Linked DNA regions of Homo sapiens: region 1 is linked to region 2. The links come from fine-mapping of genetic effects on gene expression. Tissue or cell type: whole blood. Region 2 holds a variant in brackets; the other region holds the start of a gene. All regions are shown on one strand. Distances are between the middles of the regions.

Region 1 (8,137 bases), 72 kb after region 2:
AACCACAGATCCCAGATGCTTAAAATATATAATAAACAATTTTAAGCCAATAAATTAAAGAATTTAGATGAAATAGACAAATTCCTAGAAATACATATCTGACTCAAACTGACACATGAAGAAGTAGACAATTGAAATAGTGCCACTTAAGTAATTGAATTTGTAATGGTTTAAAACATTTTTCCTTCTTTTTTCCAGCTCCAGCTGAAAGGATTGATTCTGTAATTAAAAACTTCAATGAACAAACAATCTTAAAGATTTAGATGGCATCACTGGTGAATCATCCCAAACATTTAAGGACGAGATAACACCATTATACGCAAATTATTCTACTTAATTATAAAAAGGGGGAGGGAAGATGGATTTCCAACTTGTTTTATGAGAACAGCATAATTTTTTGATACTCAAATTAGACAAGAATTCCACAAGAAAGGAAAATTACAGGCCCATCTCATGAACATCAATGCAAATGTCTTAAATAAAATATTAGCAAATTGAGTCCAGTGCTTTCTGTATAAGGATAATACATCATAATCAAATTGGGTTTAATCTAAGAAGCCATGGTAGGTTTAACACCAAAAAATCAACAATGCAATAATTCACCACATTACTAGAATAAAGGTGAAAAATTATGTCATGTCAGACAATCAAAGGCACCTGTTCTAGGCTTTCAAAGAGGAGCTAGTGGTACAAGGATGCAAGGGCAGTGGTGACTCCTTTCTAGTGGCATTAGCTGAAGTGAGAATGGCAGCGTCCCATCCTGGGGACAGAAGTGACGTCTATGTCAGACGCCTGTGGTCTTGACATGCCCCTTGTGGCCCCTTGTGGTCTGTTTTTTTTTTCTCCACTGGATGTGATTTTGGCCATGGTTCCAGCCACACTGTGTCCCTGCCCATTTTTAGATCCTGGTCCCCCAACCTGCCCAGTGATTTTTTTTTTTTTTTAGATGGAGTCTTGCTGTGTCGCCAGGCTGGAGTGCAGTGGCGCGATCTCGGCTCACCGCAACCTCCGCCTCCCAGGTTCAAGCGATTCTCCTGCCTCAGCCACCCGAGTAGCTGGGACTACAGGTGTGCGCCACCACGCCCGGCTAATTTTTGTATTTTTAGTAGAGACGGGGTTTCGCCATCTTGGCCAGGAATGTCTCCATCTCTTGACCTCGTGATCTGCCCAACTCAGCCTCCCAGAGTGCTGGGATTACAGGCGTGAGCCACTGTGCCCCGCCTACCCAGTGATTCTAAATGCAGTTCAATGGCCTTTCAGTTCATGGAGGCCAAAGCAGGTTCTGCTGCATTAAATTAAGAAACTGGGCTGGGTGTGGTGGCTAACACCTGTAATCCCAGCACTTCAGGATACTGATGTGGATTACTTGAGCCCAGGAGCTTGAGACCAGCCTAGGCAACATAGTGAAACCCTGTCTCTACCAAAAACAAAAACAAAAACAAAACAAAAAACCAAAACCCAAAATTAGCTGGGCATGGTGGCATGCATCTGTGGTTCCAGGTACTCAGGAGGCTGAAGCATGAGGATCACTTGAGCCCAGGAGGTGGAGGCTGCAGTGAGCAGTGTTCACACTGCTGCATTCCAGCCTGGGCAACAGAGTGAGACCCTAATTCAAAAACAAACAAACAGAATGAGAGAGAGAGAGAAGAAAAGAAAGAAGGAACCCAGTTAAAGAAGTTGGGTCCATTTGGATTTTTCCTGGTTTGTTTTATCTGCTGCCACCAGCAGCCTCCTGAAGTTACAAAAATAACACAAAGTAAAATAAGGCAAAACCACCATCTGCTTGAAAGAGTTTACAAACCTGATGGTGGTCGTGGGGTGGATGGAAGATTAAAAAAATGGGGACAGAAGTGAATTAGTGCAAGCCACTTGCACTGACAAGATGGGGATGGACTTCTGTGGAAGGCAGAGGAGGTCATGCCTCATGCCCCTGGTAGGAAAAGTGGCCAAAGAGGGCTTCAGAGAACAGGGGCTGATGGATGGGCTACATCTTGATGTGAGTCAAGCTCCTGGATGGCTGGAGAGAGGAAGGATGTTCTAGTTGGGGGAACAGCTTGGACAATGGAGACCCAAGAAAGCCATGTTCTAGCAGTGTGAATGTTGTGGATGCTGAAGTGCCAGGATGCAAGGTGGAGAACTGGGAAATGGCCCTGGAAAGGGGCCAAAGCCGGGTGATGAAGCACCTTGTCTACTGTGACGGAGCTTGGATCTCTCTTGTGGTCCAAAGGGAAAGGATTGCTGAATGTAAAGCCAATGTCACCAGAAAAGCTGAATCCACAAGAGAGTCCTGGAGTCCAAAAGAGCATCTCATGGGGAATCAGGAAAGTTCTGGCATTTGGCAGATTAAGCAAGTGTCTTGATTTGAAGTCCAGTTTAGTCCCAATACTCCCTCCCACACCCACCACATCGCACAATTTGGTTTTGTTTATTTACTCCAGGTTAAGGTAGAGTCTCTTAGCTTGGTTTGAGTGCTGTACTCTTCTCTCTGGTCTGATATTTGGAACTAAAGCCAAGCCAGAACTCCAGGGCCAAGGGGGATGTTGAAAATTGTCTGAGTCCCCAGACCACCCTGCCAGCTCATGGCAAAGGGAGGGATCAGAGGCCACAGGGAAAGCACTTCAGCTGCTCTTCACAGCATCACCCTCTCCCCATTTAATGGTTTAGGTTAACAGGACTTTTTCCTTGAGGCTTGGGACACGGAAGGGAGCCTCCCCTAAACCAGGCCCTTGGAGAGCAGGCCCCAGGGGAGCAGTGCAACTCACCTTCACACCCACAAGACGGCTCCTGACTTCTGCTCCCTCCTCCCCTCCCCAAAGTGGAACAGAGAGAATATGATTCCCCACGACTTCCACATCACAGTTTCCAAACAATGGGGAAATCGGAGGCCTCCCCGTGTGCAGACGGTGATATTTACCGCCAAATGCGAACCAGGCAGATGCCAGCCCCAGCACGCACGCAGGTAACTTCACCCTCGCCTCAACGACCTCAGAGGCTGCCCGGCCTGCCCCACACGGGGGTGCTAAGCCTCCCGCCCGTTCTAAGCGGAGACCCAACGCCATCCATAATTAAGTTCTTCCTGAGGGCGAGCGGCCAGGTGCGCCTTCGGCAGGACAGTGCTAATTCCAGCCCCTTTCCAGCGCGTCTCCCCGCGCTCGTCCCCCGTCTGGAAGCCCCCCTCCCACGCCCCGCGGCCCCCCTTCCCCTGGCCCGGGGAGCTGCTCCTTGTGCTGCCGGGAAGGTCAAAGTCCCGCGCCCACCAGGAGAGCTCGGCAAGTATATAAGGACAGAGGAGCGCGGGACCAAGCGGCGGCGAAGGAGGGGAAGAAGAGCCGCGACCGAGAGAGGCCGCCGAGCGTCCCCGCCCTCAGAGAGCAGCCTCCCGAGACAGGTAAGGGCGCAGCGTGGGGGACCCGTGCTCTTTCCCCGGGATCCCCTGTCCCCGTCCTCGCGATGCAGTCGGCCGGCTCCGGCTCCGAAGGCGGACCTGGGCGCCTCTGGCTCTCCGCGGTCCCGAGTTCTCGACAAACTTTCTGCGCCGACTGCGGCATGAGAAGCCGCCAGTAGCTGAGCTGGAGGGCCCACGTCCGGCCCCTGGGCGGACGGCCGCGAAGCTGCAGGCGCTGTCTCCAGGGAGCCGGCGGCCTCCTCTCCCCCAGGGGCTCGCGGCGGTCCGGAGGCTCCGAGAGCTTGCTAGGAGGTCTTGGGACAACCCGGTCTTTTTTTTTTTTTTTGAGACGGAGTTTCGCTCTTGTTGCCCATGCTGGAGAGCAAAGGGGTGATCTCTGCTCACCGCAACCTTCGCCTCCCGGGTTCAAGCGATTCTCCTGCTTCAGCCTCCCGAGTAGCTGGGATTACAGGCATGCGCCACCACGCCCGGCTAATTTTTGTATTTTTAGTAGAGACGGAGTTTCTCCATGTTGGTCAGGCTGGTCTCAAACTCCCGACAACAGGTGATCCGCCCGCCTTGGCCCCCCAAAGTTCTGGCATTACAGGCGCGAGCCACCGCCCCCGGCCAGCCCGGTCTTTTAGTATCTCTTGCTCCCAGTTTCCAGGATAGGTGTCACATCTTGAAAGTCAAATTCCATACACGCTATCGCAAATTAATGTTGGAAACGGGGCAGCAGAGAAAAGGATAAAAGTCATAATGAACGCCCTGCCTTCCGGATTTTTTCGGATTCAGACCCCTGAATCCTTGTTTCCTTGCCCACCTTAGCGCACCCGAGGTGGCCGCGCTATGATAATTACATGATAACTGGGTCAATTACAATGCAGAATAGTTGGGTCTCTTCTCTCCAAGACCTAGCTGGGGTTAAAAACAGGTGGCCGGGGCGGGAGCTGTCCTAGATCCTGAAACGCACTGTCTAGTTTCGGATGCCCTCAACAGAACCGGGGTGGACGGTTTATGGCGCAGATCCTGGGTTGAGGGCACGGGCAGCCATTTGGAATGATCAAGGCTCAGGTAAGGGGCGTTTCCAGCGAAGGAGAGACAGTCCACTTGGCATTTGGATTCCCCAAATTCTTCATGTTTAAATGGGGCAGGGAGGGTTCTTACAGAATGGCTGGAAGGAGCCAAGGAAAATAAAAGTGTGTGTGGATTTTTTTTGTGTGTGTGTCAGTTTATAAACTCTGCACAGATTATGGCCACTTTAATGACTTACTGTTCCTTTGATGCTTTTGTTATAGGACTCGATGCATGTATGTCATGGTGTAAGGACAAAACTCGGCCCCTGTGCTCCTCTAATCTTTACAAAAGGTCATGGCCAGCGTGCAGTTTTACAGTAACAAGCAAAATGATTTGTTGAGCTCATAGAGAGCCCCTCACACCTATGAAGTTCTAATAAGTGTAGTTCTACTATAAAGTTAATCTCAGGATGAGCAAATTTCAAGTTTCTATTTTTCCAGAGCTTTCCATTTTTGGATTATAATACTTTCCCTACTTAAAAAAGCACAACATTTGATATTTCCCCAATAATTTGTTGCTTTAAAAATGACACAAAAGGTACTATTTGTTCATTGTAGAGAACTGAAAATACACATAAGCAAATACACATACACATAAGCAAAATATACAATACAAACACAAGACCATCTTTCAGGGAAGAATCTGAAGTTTTAGCAATAGCAGCCATCTAACCAGTTTAGCAACAGAATATAAGCTCTGAGAGGGTGGGAGTGAATATGTTACCACATTGTACAACACAGCACATAGGGCATAAGGAGGGGAAATGCTCTCTGGGGCTTTCCAGGAAGGCCTGAAGTCATTGCTTCTAGCAAATGGAAATCACTCCAGAGTAGTTATCTTTGACAAGAATTGAAATATAATTGAGGGAACTATCAGACCTGTAAGATTTTGTTTTTTCCTTTACTAATATGTTACTTTACATTTGCATTTGGTGACATACGTAACTACCATTTTTCTGTGACTGTAACATCTGGGCATTTTTCAGAGCTAAATGTGCTATGGTCAACTTGGAGCTTTAATCTAATTGCCTGGTCCACCAAGTTCTGGCTGTGTACTTGAATAGATCACTGGCAGGGTACAATGGGAACAGCCTGTCCCTTGGAGCCAGGAGAGGACACCAAGGTTGACCAAAGCTCGTTCAGTTGCCCCTTTAGCCGAAGCGCACCTGGGCCAGTCACTGGCTGCCAGTGCCATCTAATGGCTGCTCTGAAAATGCTCAGCCTTGCCCGGCAACCCTTCAGAAGCTAGCACCGTGCAGGCCCAGCGCCTGGGGAATAGGGCGAGGGTGGGGTAGAGAGAAGGAAGTGGCCTCCTGAAGTAGAAATCAGCGCTTCAGAGGACTTTCACTTCCAAAGCCTCCCCTATATAAAAAAGATTTGGCCCACGCCTCCCCAAATGAGAGATTTATTTTAGGCAAACTTATTTTAAAATGCCAGCGTTCATTAGGAGTGACAAGACACTTAGTCATCCACGCTTTAATGTGAATTACTTTTCTCATCTAATTACATTTCTTTCTAGCAGCTGGCTGAGAAGATCTTCTGAAATCCAAAATGATTGTAGGGTTGGCGGTGAGCTGATCTCCGGCCTCGAGGTGGCTTCAGGGGGCCCACCTGGTTAAGGGAAATTTGGCAGTGCGAGGGTAGTGCTGGAGAGAGGGGTGGGTACAGGGGGCTAGGGGCACCATGGATGCCCCCTCCTTACTGTCCCCTGGTGTCTTGACCTCAGCTTCTGCCCACAGGCACTTGCTGGATTCTCCAAAAGTATCTGCAGTGGCTGTTCCACCAGGAGGTAATTCCCTTCTGGTCTCTTTCCCCTCCACATCTGCATCCTCTTCAAATCCTGCCATTTCAGACCACATTTGAGAGCTCTAGAGAACAAGACATCTGACACGTGACGTGTCCAGAAGATGAGCCAGATTTCAAAGAACTGAGATCTGCTTTAAAAACGAAGCTCTCCAAAGTTACTGGAGTCTGGGTAATAGTGATCACCAGAGTAATTTGTGTGCAGGACATCAAATCAGGCTGCTCGAAATGCTGCCTAAATTGGCCAGTGGTTTTATTTGCTTTTCTGTCAACCTAATATTCATAGGAAATAGAGTTTCAGAGGAATGATAGGATCCTGGTGGAATAAAAAGGGAAAAGACCATCTTGAGCAGGAGTTTCAGGGTCCTCCGTTTTTCCCAAGTTACTTTCACTCCTGAGATCTTGCATGTTAGAACTACAGCTTAATGTAGTGAAATAGGAAAGTTCTCTGTTAGGAGCTTAGCCTTACCTTGTCATGGACATTAAAGTAATTGTCTCTCTTTGGGCTTCAATTTTCCCATCTCTCATGGGAAGGGCTGAACCAAGCAATCCCCAAAATAGCTTCCAGCCTTAACCTTTTTAGGGGTCTCGTTTAAATAGAAGATAACAGGGAAATGGTCACAGTTTACCCACCATTCCCTCCTCCTTATCACAACTTATACCACCGCTGTACTGCACACCTCCTTTCTCAGCATTGCTGCTGTCCTTAAAATGCCTTTAACTCCACAAGAGAGTGTGTTGTTAATGTTGGCTCAAGGTCCTTCCTGGTGAGTGGCCAACATTGTTTTGCTCCTTGCAGGGGTCCCACCAATCTTGTTTGCTTCTGCAGAGCCTCAGCCTGCCTGGAAGATGCCGAGATCGTGCTGCAGCCGCTCGGGGGCCCTGTTGCTGGCCTTGCTGCTTCAGGCCTCCATGGAAGTGCGTGGCTGGTGCCTGGAGAGCAGCCAGTGTCAGGACCTCACCACGGAAAGCAACCTGCTGGTACGTGGGCCATGACTGCCATCTTGGCTTAGACATTAGATGGGACTGGAGCTGGGAAAGCTCAAAAGAAAAGGGTGTGGGGAAAGGGAAATTCATTCCCAGTGATAGGCGTGATTCAATCCAGGGCAGGAGCAAAACTTTGCAGTGAAGTAAGAAATGGGAGAAGAAATCAGGGAAGGAAGCAGCTTCAGGGAGAGGGGTTGAGTCCACAATTTCTGCTTGGTTATCCTTACTTCTTGCCCCATCTTTTATGGAGACCTTGAACCCTTTAAGCTAGAGATGGTGCTATAAGAGCAATAATGGACCCCTCAATCTATTCTGTACTTTAAATCTTTAGCTTCCCAAACTATTCCTTTTTAAGAAGCTCATATCACTTGCCATTTTCATTCCATATTTCTTACCCTTTTATCTACTACCGGTTGCAAAACCAGCCAGGTAGTTCTTCAAATCATCTCTGGAAGAAGGAAAAACCAGGGGCCCTTTTTTTTTTTTCTTTAATTGGTGCCAAATGTCTCATGTTTATTCTGGAGGACTGGCCTTCTGCTGTGTTCCTCTACAGTCTTTCCAGAGCATGTGAAGGCCCTTTGCATCAGGCAGGAGCTCCCTCCAGGTCACCACAGGGTGTATGTATCTGCCTGTGGGGGGTGTGTGTGTGTGTGTGTTGGGGGGCATAAATGAGTAATGATGCCAAATCCAGAGATTAAAAGGCACACTGAGACCAGGCGAGATGGCTCATGGCTGTAATCCCAGCACTTTTAGATGCTAAGGTGGGAGGATTGCTTGAGCCCAGGGATTCAAGACAAGCCTGGGCAACATAGTGAGACCTCCACTTCTACAAAAAATAAAAAAGTTAGCCAGATGTGGTGGCATGTGCCTGTAGTCCTAGCTACTT
Region 2 (8,000 bases):
ACGAAATGATGGTTAGCTTCACAGCTGTTAAAATATTATCCCAAAGGGGAAGCTTGTGTGTGAAGTGGAAACGTATGCAGTCCGTGGACTTAGATTTGACCAAAAATAAAAAAGTAAAACAGGTGGTAAAGCAGCCTGCCTGCTGGGCGCTTCCTTAGTAAGGAAGATTCAGCCACAGAGGCCGAGTGATCATTAGTCAGATTCACAGAGATTTCACAGAGCCTCAAAGGACAGATTCAGCAAGACAGAAACATACACAGTTCTGTTGTGTTTTGATTATACACAAGATAGTCTAAAGAAGACTTATTTAAATCACCCATTATCCTTTTATTAATATTTTGGCATATGTCCTTTTCAGATTTTTTTCTGTGCGTTTGTGTTTATATAACCATACATCCATAGATAGATAAATTAAGTGGGTAGTGAATGCACACGGTTTTGTAACTTGCCTTGCATTTATTATATTATGATTGCTTTTTCATGTCAAGCGATATAAAGCTACATTTTTTTTTTTTTTTTTGAGACGGAGTCTGTTGCCCAGGCTGGAGTGCAGTGGTGCCATCTTGGCCCACTGCAACCTCTGCCTCCTGGGTTCAAGCAGTTCTCCTGCCTCAGCCTCCCGAGTAGCTGGGACTGCAGGCACCCACCACCACGCCCAGCTAATTTTTGTGTTTTTAGTAGAGACGGTGTTTCACCGTGTTGGCCAGGCTGGTCTCGATCTCTTGACCTTGTGATCCGCCCACCTCGGCCTCCCAAAGTGCTGGGATTACAGGCATGAGCCACCAGACCCGGCCAAAGCTACATTCTTTATTTGTAAGTGTTGCGTAAGGTTCCATTGAGTCAAAGTGCCGTAATTTATTTAACGAACCCCTATTAGGTCATTTACTATTTTTTTTATTATTATTATAAGTAGTGCTGTGACAAGCATCCTGATAGAATATATACTTGAACCATTCCCTCCTTAGGAAAACCTTTAGGAGATGCTGGGTCACCCTGCAGGCATTGTTTGCTTCATGTGACTCTGGACACTGCAGAAAGCGTCCTAGGAGATTGTGAAGACACATCCACCCCTCTGCCCTGCCCCCCCAGCCAAGGGCTTCCCGGCTTTTAAGAAAGGAATAGCTCTTCTTAGAATTCATGTCTTTGGCCAGAGGGAGATAGGCAGTCTCAACCCAGGGACCCTGGTTAGAGGGTGAGGCGGAGGGGATGGCTTCCCCGGCCAGATGTTTGTCTTCTGTTCTCAGCTCCATGCTGCTCTTCTGTAAACCTAGAGAAGTTCATTTACAGCTTTTTGTATCCCAGACTGGAACCTTGAGGCCTTCTTAAATCATGTCACACCCCAGGAGGCTGTAAAAGCTCCTTGGCTGGGGGACATGTTGGGAGCAGCAGAAACAGTGCCGTACCCTGTTTCTCCCGAGACCCTCTCGGGATCTGCTCTGATTGTTTCCTTGCCTCAGTTCGGCTAGCATTTCTGGAGGGGGAGGGATCGTGGTAAGGAAATCTGTGTGGTTAGCTCGGGGGAAGCACAATGAAGGAGGCCTCCTCTGTCTGGAAGAGCCTTTGCAATCCACGAGAGGGCTGAGTGAGGAATGGAAACTGCTCTGATGGGGAGGCAAGGGATGCACAGAGCTGGGGACTCATAGCGGAGGGGGCGGTGATTCCAGGGGCTACTGGGTGGGGCAGGGCATTTATGAAACCTTTGTGGAGCAGGGAACATTCAGGTTGAGTCAAAGGGTGGGGTAGAATTGTAGCAGGAGGTGATAAGAGGGTATGGAAGGACCAAGTTGTAGACGGACAACAACAAAGAAAAGGCCCCCAAAAAGTCAGCTGTGATTCTTCCTGGATCCTGGAACCATGTACTCTCCGGTCAGTTTTCTGCAGCTTTGACTGCCTTCCAGATAGGCCAAACGAGGCATGAGACAGAGCCTCGATGTCCTTACTATGGATACTCCAGTTGGATCCAGAAAGGATTTAAGGCATCTTCAGGGAAAAGATAGGACTTGGGCCTACAGCTGACCCCATGGGTCCTGTTGGCCAGCAGGCTCACCTGCCGAGACCAGGGTGCCAGGGAGATGGCTCCAAGTAACGGTGCTGTCTGCTGGCTGGTGCAGGGCTCCTGGTGCTGAAGGACTTGGGCATTCAGGTGGACCGCTACATTGCCTCGGAGGTGTGTGAGGACTCCATCACGGTGGGCATGGTGCGGCACCAGGGGAAGATCATGTACGTCGGGGACGTCCGCAGCGTCACACAGAAGCATGTATGTCCATGCTGTGGGGCGCAGCCCGTCTTCCCCTCCCTGCACACTCAGCACCTGGAGGCAGCCCTTGCCTCCTTTCATTTTGTTCATTTGCCCTCTTTCTCTTCACCCTTTGCCCCAGCCTCTTTTTCTCCTTATCTTCCATTTGTCCTCTGTCTTGAGAGGGTAAAGGGCAAATTGAAATGGGAATTTGGGCTAGGCATGGTGGCTCATGCCTATAATGCCAGCACTTTGGGAGGCCAAGGTAGGAGAATCCCTTGAGGCCAGGGGTTTAAGACTAGCTTGGGCAACATAGTGCCTACTTGAGCTCTGGCTACTCCCTGGGCTGGTTTCTGGACAGTTTCTAGTAGAGCTCTTTGGATTAGAGAGAGGTTCCTGTCCTCCCAATACTTTTGGCAAATAGCTTTATCAGCTTCCATATCTGGGAGGCTCAGGCAGGGTCTTCCCTTAAGCATGACTACAGGCCCTCTGGAGTCCTGAAGGGCAACTGGAGGACATTCACATGGCCCAGACACCCTGCCTAAGACACTCAGCATGCCAGGTACCTTCAGACTCAGCCGTCCACTTGGGTCACCTTCCCAGTGGGTGGCTGTGTTGCCTGCCTGGGTGATACTAGTTTCCCCATTGGCCTAAGAAATGATCCAACTTGGTCCCGTTCTTGTTTAGGACTTGTCCATGGTTGCAGCTAGGGTCGTGAGCCTGCAGAGCAGCTGGGTCTCCTCTCTTTCGTGTCAAAGGACTTCTTTGCCAAGTTCACAGATAATTTCTCTTTCTTCCTGTCTGCCTCTGTCCCTGGACAGCAGGCCCATCACGTTGCCTTTATCCTCCCAGATCCAGGAGTGGGGCCCATTCGATCTGGTGATTGGGGGCAGTCCCTGCAATGACCTCTCCATCGTCAACCCTGCTCGCAAGGGCCTCTACGGTAGGTACCATCCTGTCCCCTCCACCTTCTCAGCTGGTGCTTCCGCACATAGGCTTCCTCCTTGGATATTTCTGCCCTGGGACAGCTATTCCCGATGACCCTGTCTTCCCGTGCCCTCCCCGTGCCCGAGCCACACCACTGTCCTATGCAGACAGCCCCAGCTGATGGCTTTCTCTTCCGACCTCTCAGAGGGCACTGGCCGGCTCTTCTTTGAGTTCTACCGCCTCCTGCATGATGCGCGGCCCAAGGAGGGAGATGATCGCCCCTTCTTCTGGCTCTTTGAGAATGTGGTGGCCATGGGCGTTAGTGACAAGAGGGACATCTCGCGATTTCTCGAGGTATAGCCAGCAACCTTGGTTTGGCCAGCTCACTAATGGCTTCTACCTTGGACTGCTGCTTCATCCTGTCTCATCTGCATTGTGGAGCTGGGGACTGGTGACTTCTGCTTTGCAAGGGGCCTGTTTGGGAAGCCCCAGGCTTCCTGGATAGAAAGGGAGGAAGCAGGGTTAGAGGCCTACCTCGGAAAGAACCAGTGGTCTCACTCTAAGAGGTGGCATTGTGGGTGTGGACCTCCGGGGTTGAAGGACCTGTCACTCAATCAGGTGGGGTGCCAGACTCCTGGGGTTGGGTATTCTGTATGGTGTTTGTTACACACCAGGATCTTTGAGAGGACAAAATCAGTTTTCCCTGAGCAAGAAGGGCCTATCCTCACTCCCTGGTACCATGACAGGCACCTGAGAAGAAAACAAGACTTAGCTCAGTTTTCATTCCTTATCATGTGAGTCCCCGTTTAACCCTGAGCCAAGTCTGAGCCGCGTGCAGAGGGCTTCTGCTGCCAGAGGCGTGCTTGGAGTGGCCCTTCTGGGAGCTTGAGCCCACCTGTGCTCCTGAGTCTTGGGGTGGGTCACACTGTGAGCTGGTGTTCTGACTGTAAGTGTGAGCAGGCGTCTGTTTGAGTTCTAATCAGGGCTCATGGTAAACACACCCATACTCGCTGGAGCCTGGGCTCTCCCAGCCTCTGGGTAGTCTAGAGCAGCACTGTGCAATATGGTAGCCACCAGCCACATGCGGCTGTTTACATTAACATTAACCATTCAGCTCCTCAATCACATTGGCCTCATTTTAGGTACAAAATAGCCACCTGTACTAGTGGGCTAGTGGCCACTGAATTGAACAGTGTAGAGGACAACCCACCATCGCAGAAGTTCATTTGGACAATGCTGATCTAGAACGTTCCAGTGACAGCTTGTGGAATGTGGCTAGGTGTAATTCCAGCTTCTCCTGGAGGCTGCAGGCTAGCCCAGTGTGTGGCTCCTGAGAGAGAAGTAAGAGGCTTTGAGGCTTTAAGGCTCGACCCCAGCAGCATGCCGGCGCTGTTTCATGCTCCTCCTTGGCTCATCTTCAAACCGTCTCCTGTTTTGTAGTCCAACCCTGTGATGATTGATGCCAAAGAAGTGTCAGCTGCACACAGGGCCCGCTACTTCTGGGGTAACCTTCCCGGTATGAACAGGTTGGTGAAAGCTCCTGGGCCTGGGGGGCTGTGGGCTGGGACTGCAGGTGGGATGACCCATAGTGGGGAAGCCCCTGAGCCGGGCCCTCTCTGGCCGGCCTCTGCTGAATGACTAGCTGCTCTGCCATGTTCCTTATTTCCTTTTCCTTGAGGAGGAAGAGGAGTCAGGGTATAGAAAATACTCGTCTGAAACCAACAACTAGTGGTCTTAAAGCAGGACCT[T/C]TAAAAGTACTCTCTTTATACCAAAGAAGAGTCCTGTGCTGCTGAGTTAGGTAGTTGGTTTTCTGACATTGGTGATGTGTCCCGAGCCCTCTGGTTCTTAGATTCTCCTGAGGCAAAGCCATGGGGCATGGCTTTGGGGCTGGGAAGGGGAGTTGTGGCCACAGCCTGTTCCAGGAGAGGGAATCTTGCAGCGGCTGCATGCAAGTTCAGGGTTCTGCTTAACTTAATTTTACTAATCACACACTTTGTTGGCTTCAGGTCCTTTTTTGGAGAGATTTTCTTCAGTTAGGTTACACAGATAAAGATTTTAATATCTAGGAATGAAGAAAATTCATTTCATCAGTTATAAAACTGGCATTATAAAAAGGCTTTTTAGGCGAAATAAATTGTCCAGAGTTGGCAATTCAAAAGCATGCTGAGAGCCGCTCAGTCCCTGTCCATTGTGGAGGGAAGCGTTTTCCAGAGTGTTCTGAGTCATGGGTGTTAAACCTCCATGGTGGGCTGCTTGGTATACTTGGTATAACTAGGAGACATCATTTCACCTGGCCTCGGTCAAATAATCTCCCTCCTTGCTATTCCCATGAGGTTGTAGGACCTTCCCCATCTCATACATGTTTGGTAGAGTTGCTATCGAGGGCTTGTTGAGGGGAAGGAGATGGGGCATTGGGGCAGCTGGCCTGAAACTGTCCCCCGAGAGTTCCCAAGATACATGTGCATATTGGGAAATGGATGGGCTAATGAGGTCCAGTATTTTCATGGAACCACTCAGTGTCTCCCGACAGACCTTGGTCCTGTGGGATTTCTCGCCTGCTTCTTTCAACTCTAAAATACTAAACTCTGAGCTTCTAGGAGGAGCAGAGGTCCTGCATGCAGGGCCGACTGGGCAGTGCACGCATAAAGAGTCGGGGACATCTGTCGAGCACCTGATTTGACTGCAGGCCCCGTGGTTCCCACACTGAGATCCTGGAGCCAGTGCTCAGGGAAGCCTTCCTTAAATATCCTTACATGTCAGAAAAGGTCAGCGTTGAAGGGGACAGCCAGTCAGTTATGTGGCCTGCACCCTGAGAAGTGACATATTTAATGTCACAGAATTTTTGGTCTTTAGGGAACTGCAGAATTTAAGTCTGGTTTTTTTTTTTTTTGGAGACAGAGTCTTGCTCTGTCGCCCAGGCTGGAGTGCAGTGGTGCCATCCTGGCTCACTGCAGCCTCCGCCTCCCAGGTTCAAGCGATTCTCCTGCCTCAGCCTCCCGAGTAGCTGGGATTACAGGCACCTGCCACCACGTCTGGCTAATTTTTATATTAGTAGAGACCGGGTTTCACCATGTTGATCAGGATGGACTCAAACTCCTGACCTCAGGTGACCCGCCTGCCTCAGCCTTCCAAAGGGCTGGGATTGCAGGCATGAGCCACTGCGCCTGGCCCAGAATTTAGTCTTTTAAAGCAGTACATTTAAGGCTTGCGGTTTGATTAATTTCATCCAGTGGACACACCCGTGTAACAATCACCACAAATCAAGATACAGAACATTGTCACCCCCAAAGCTTGCTTCGCAGTGGGACGCTTAAAGCTCAGTGTATTTTAGACTAACTGATGTAAAGATAGCTGTGCTTTTTTTTTCTTTTTCTGCTAGGTGTTATCTGCCTGTTCACAATTTGAGACCACTTTTGAATTTACCTTTAAGGATTAACGCTTGGTGGATTTGTGTCTTTGCATGGCTGCAGTGTGTGTTCGTGTGTTTGCGGGGAGTTTGAAGAGAGTTATGACGTGTGTGCGTGATTTGGGGAAGGGGCTCTTACCCTGTGAACTAGTGGCTGCTGGGGGAGGGAGGGGAGTCGTGCAGCTGGGGCCCTTCCCGCTGTTATCCAGGTTTCTGTTGTTACAGTCTCTCTTCTGCCTCCTAGGCCGTTGGCATCCACTGTGAATGATAAGCTGGAGCTGCAGGAGTGTCTGGAGCATGGCAGGATAGCCAAGGTCAGCTCCAGCGTCTAGAACCTCTGCTGGGGGGCAGGGAGAAGGAAGGGCAGGATGAGGTGGAGCGGTGGCCAGGGCCTTGTCCCGCCTGCTTCTCCAGCTAGTGTGGAGAATGCAATTTAGGAGACGGTGCAGGGTCATGCAGCAGGGCAGCCAGAGGAGGGCCCAGGGCTGCTGGCCTTCAGCCCTTCCTCCCTGGTGAGTGTCGCCCATCACCCCCGGTAGACACTGAGGAGTCTTTACCAAGACCTGGTTGTGCTGTGGCTTTTTTTTCATTTTTAAATTTTTTGGCCAAAACCTATTACAAAAGCCCTCAAAGCAGCCTCCTGTGATGTGGAAGCTCCATTTCTCTCTGGAGCTGGAATCTCCCGGAGTGACTACCTGGGGCACTGGGTTCTGTGTCAGCAGGTTCCAGCATTCAGAACCACTGGCAGCTCCGAGGGCATCTTTGAGCCCCTCAGTAACTTGGCATCCTTTAGCCTACAAGTTACTCCATCTCTGAAAGAACTAATTCTTTGGAAGACTTGGAAAGTACAGTGGCTACAGCTTCTACTTCTAAAGTCTGTGGCTAGGCCGGGTGCGGTGGCTCACGCCTATAATCCCAATACTTTGGGAGGCCGAGGCAGGCGGATCACCTGAGGTCAGGAGTTTGAGACCAGCCTGGCCGACACGGTGAAACCCTGTCTGACTAAAAATATAAAAATTAGCCAGGCATGGTGGCGGGCGCCTGTAGTCCCAGCTACTCAGGAGTCTGAGGCATTAGAATCGCTTGAACCCGGGAGGTGGAGGTTACAGTGAGCTGAGATCGCACCACTGCAGTCCAGCCTGGGTGACAGAGCGAGACTCCGTCTCAAAAAAAAAAAAAAAAGTCTGTGGCTAGATGGATCTAAGATTGGCCAGGTGACCTCCAAGTAGGAAGAAAAGTGAGGCTGTGGGGTCTGTGGAGGCTCCTGCCCTGCGAACTCTGCTCACTCAGAGCCATACCCAGCCCCCTGGGTGGACCAGGCCCTGTCAGGGTTTGGCGAGTACCTGGCATATTTGGTAGACGCATGACCAGTGTTGGCTGGTGAATGAATTCGTGCTTATTCCTCTTTTCTCCTCTTCATCTAGTTCAGCA

Evidence for each region. PIP is the estimated chance that this variant, and not a neighbour inherited with it, causes the effect.
Region 1: it holds the start of POMC, and the variant in region 2 is fine-mapped to the expression of POMC in whole blood (TOPMed, PIP above 0.99).

The regions. Positions count from the first base shown.
Region 1 is chr2:25,163,749-25,171,885 of GRCh38, reverse strand. It overlaps POMC (proopiomelanocortin), which reads left to right and starts at 3,306. Exons shown (of 3, transcript NM_000939.4): 1 at 3,306-3,388; 2 at 7,094-7,245. The coding sequence starts at 7,114. RefSeq lists cis regulatory regions at 3,004-3,029, 3,030-3,203, 3,269-3,281, an enhancer at 3,190-3,209 and a promoter at 2,620-3,432.
Region 2 is chr2:25,235,819-25,243,818 of GRCh38, reverse strand. DNMT3A (DNA methyltransferase 3 alpha) reads left to right here. Exons shown (of 23, transcript NM_022552.5): 17 at 2,112-2,257; 18 at 3,089-3,179; 19 at 3,369-3,517; 20 at 4,604-4,689; 21 at 6,814-6,883; 22 at 7,994-8,000. Among named protein-coding and RNA genes, the nearest start is that of LINC01381, 36 kb to the right of the region's middle. The variant T/C (reference allele first, on the strand shown) is at 4,912.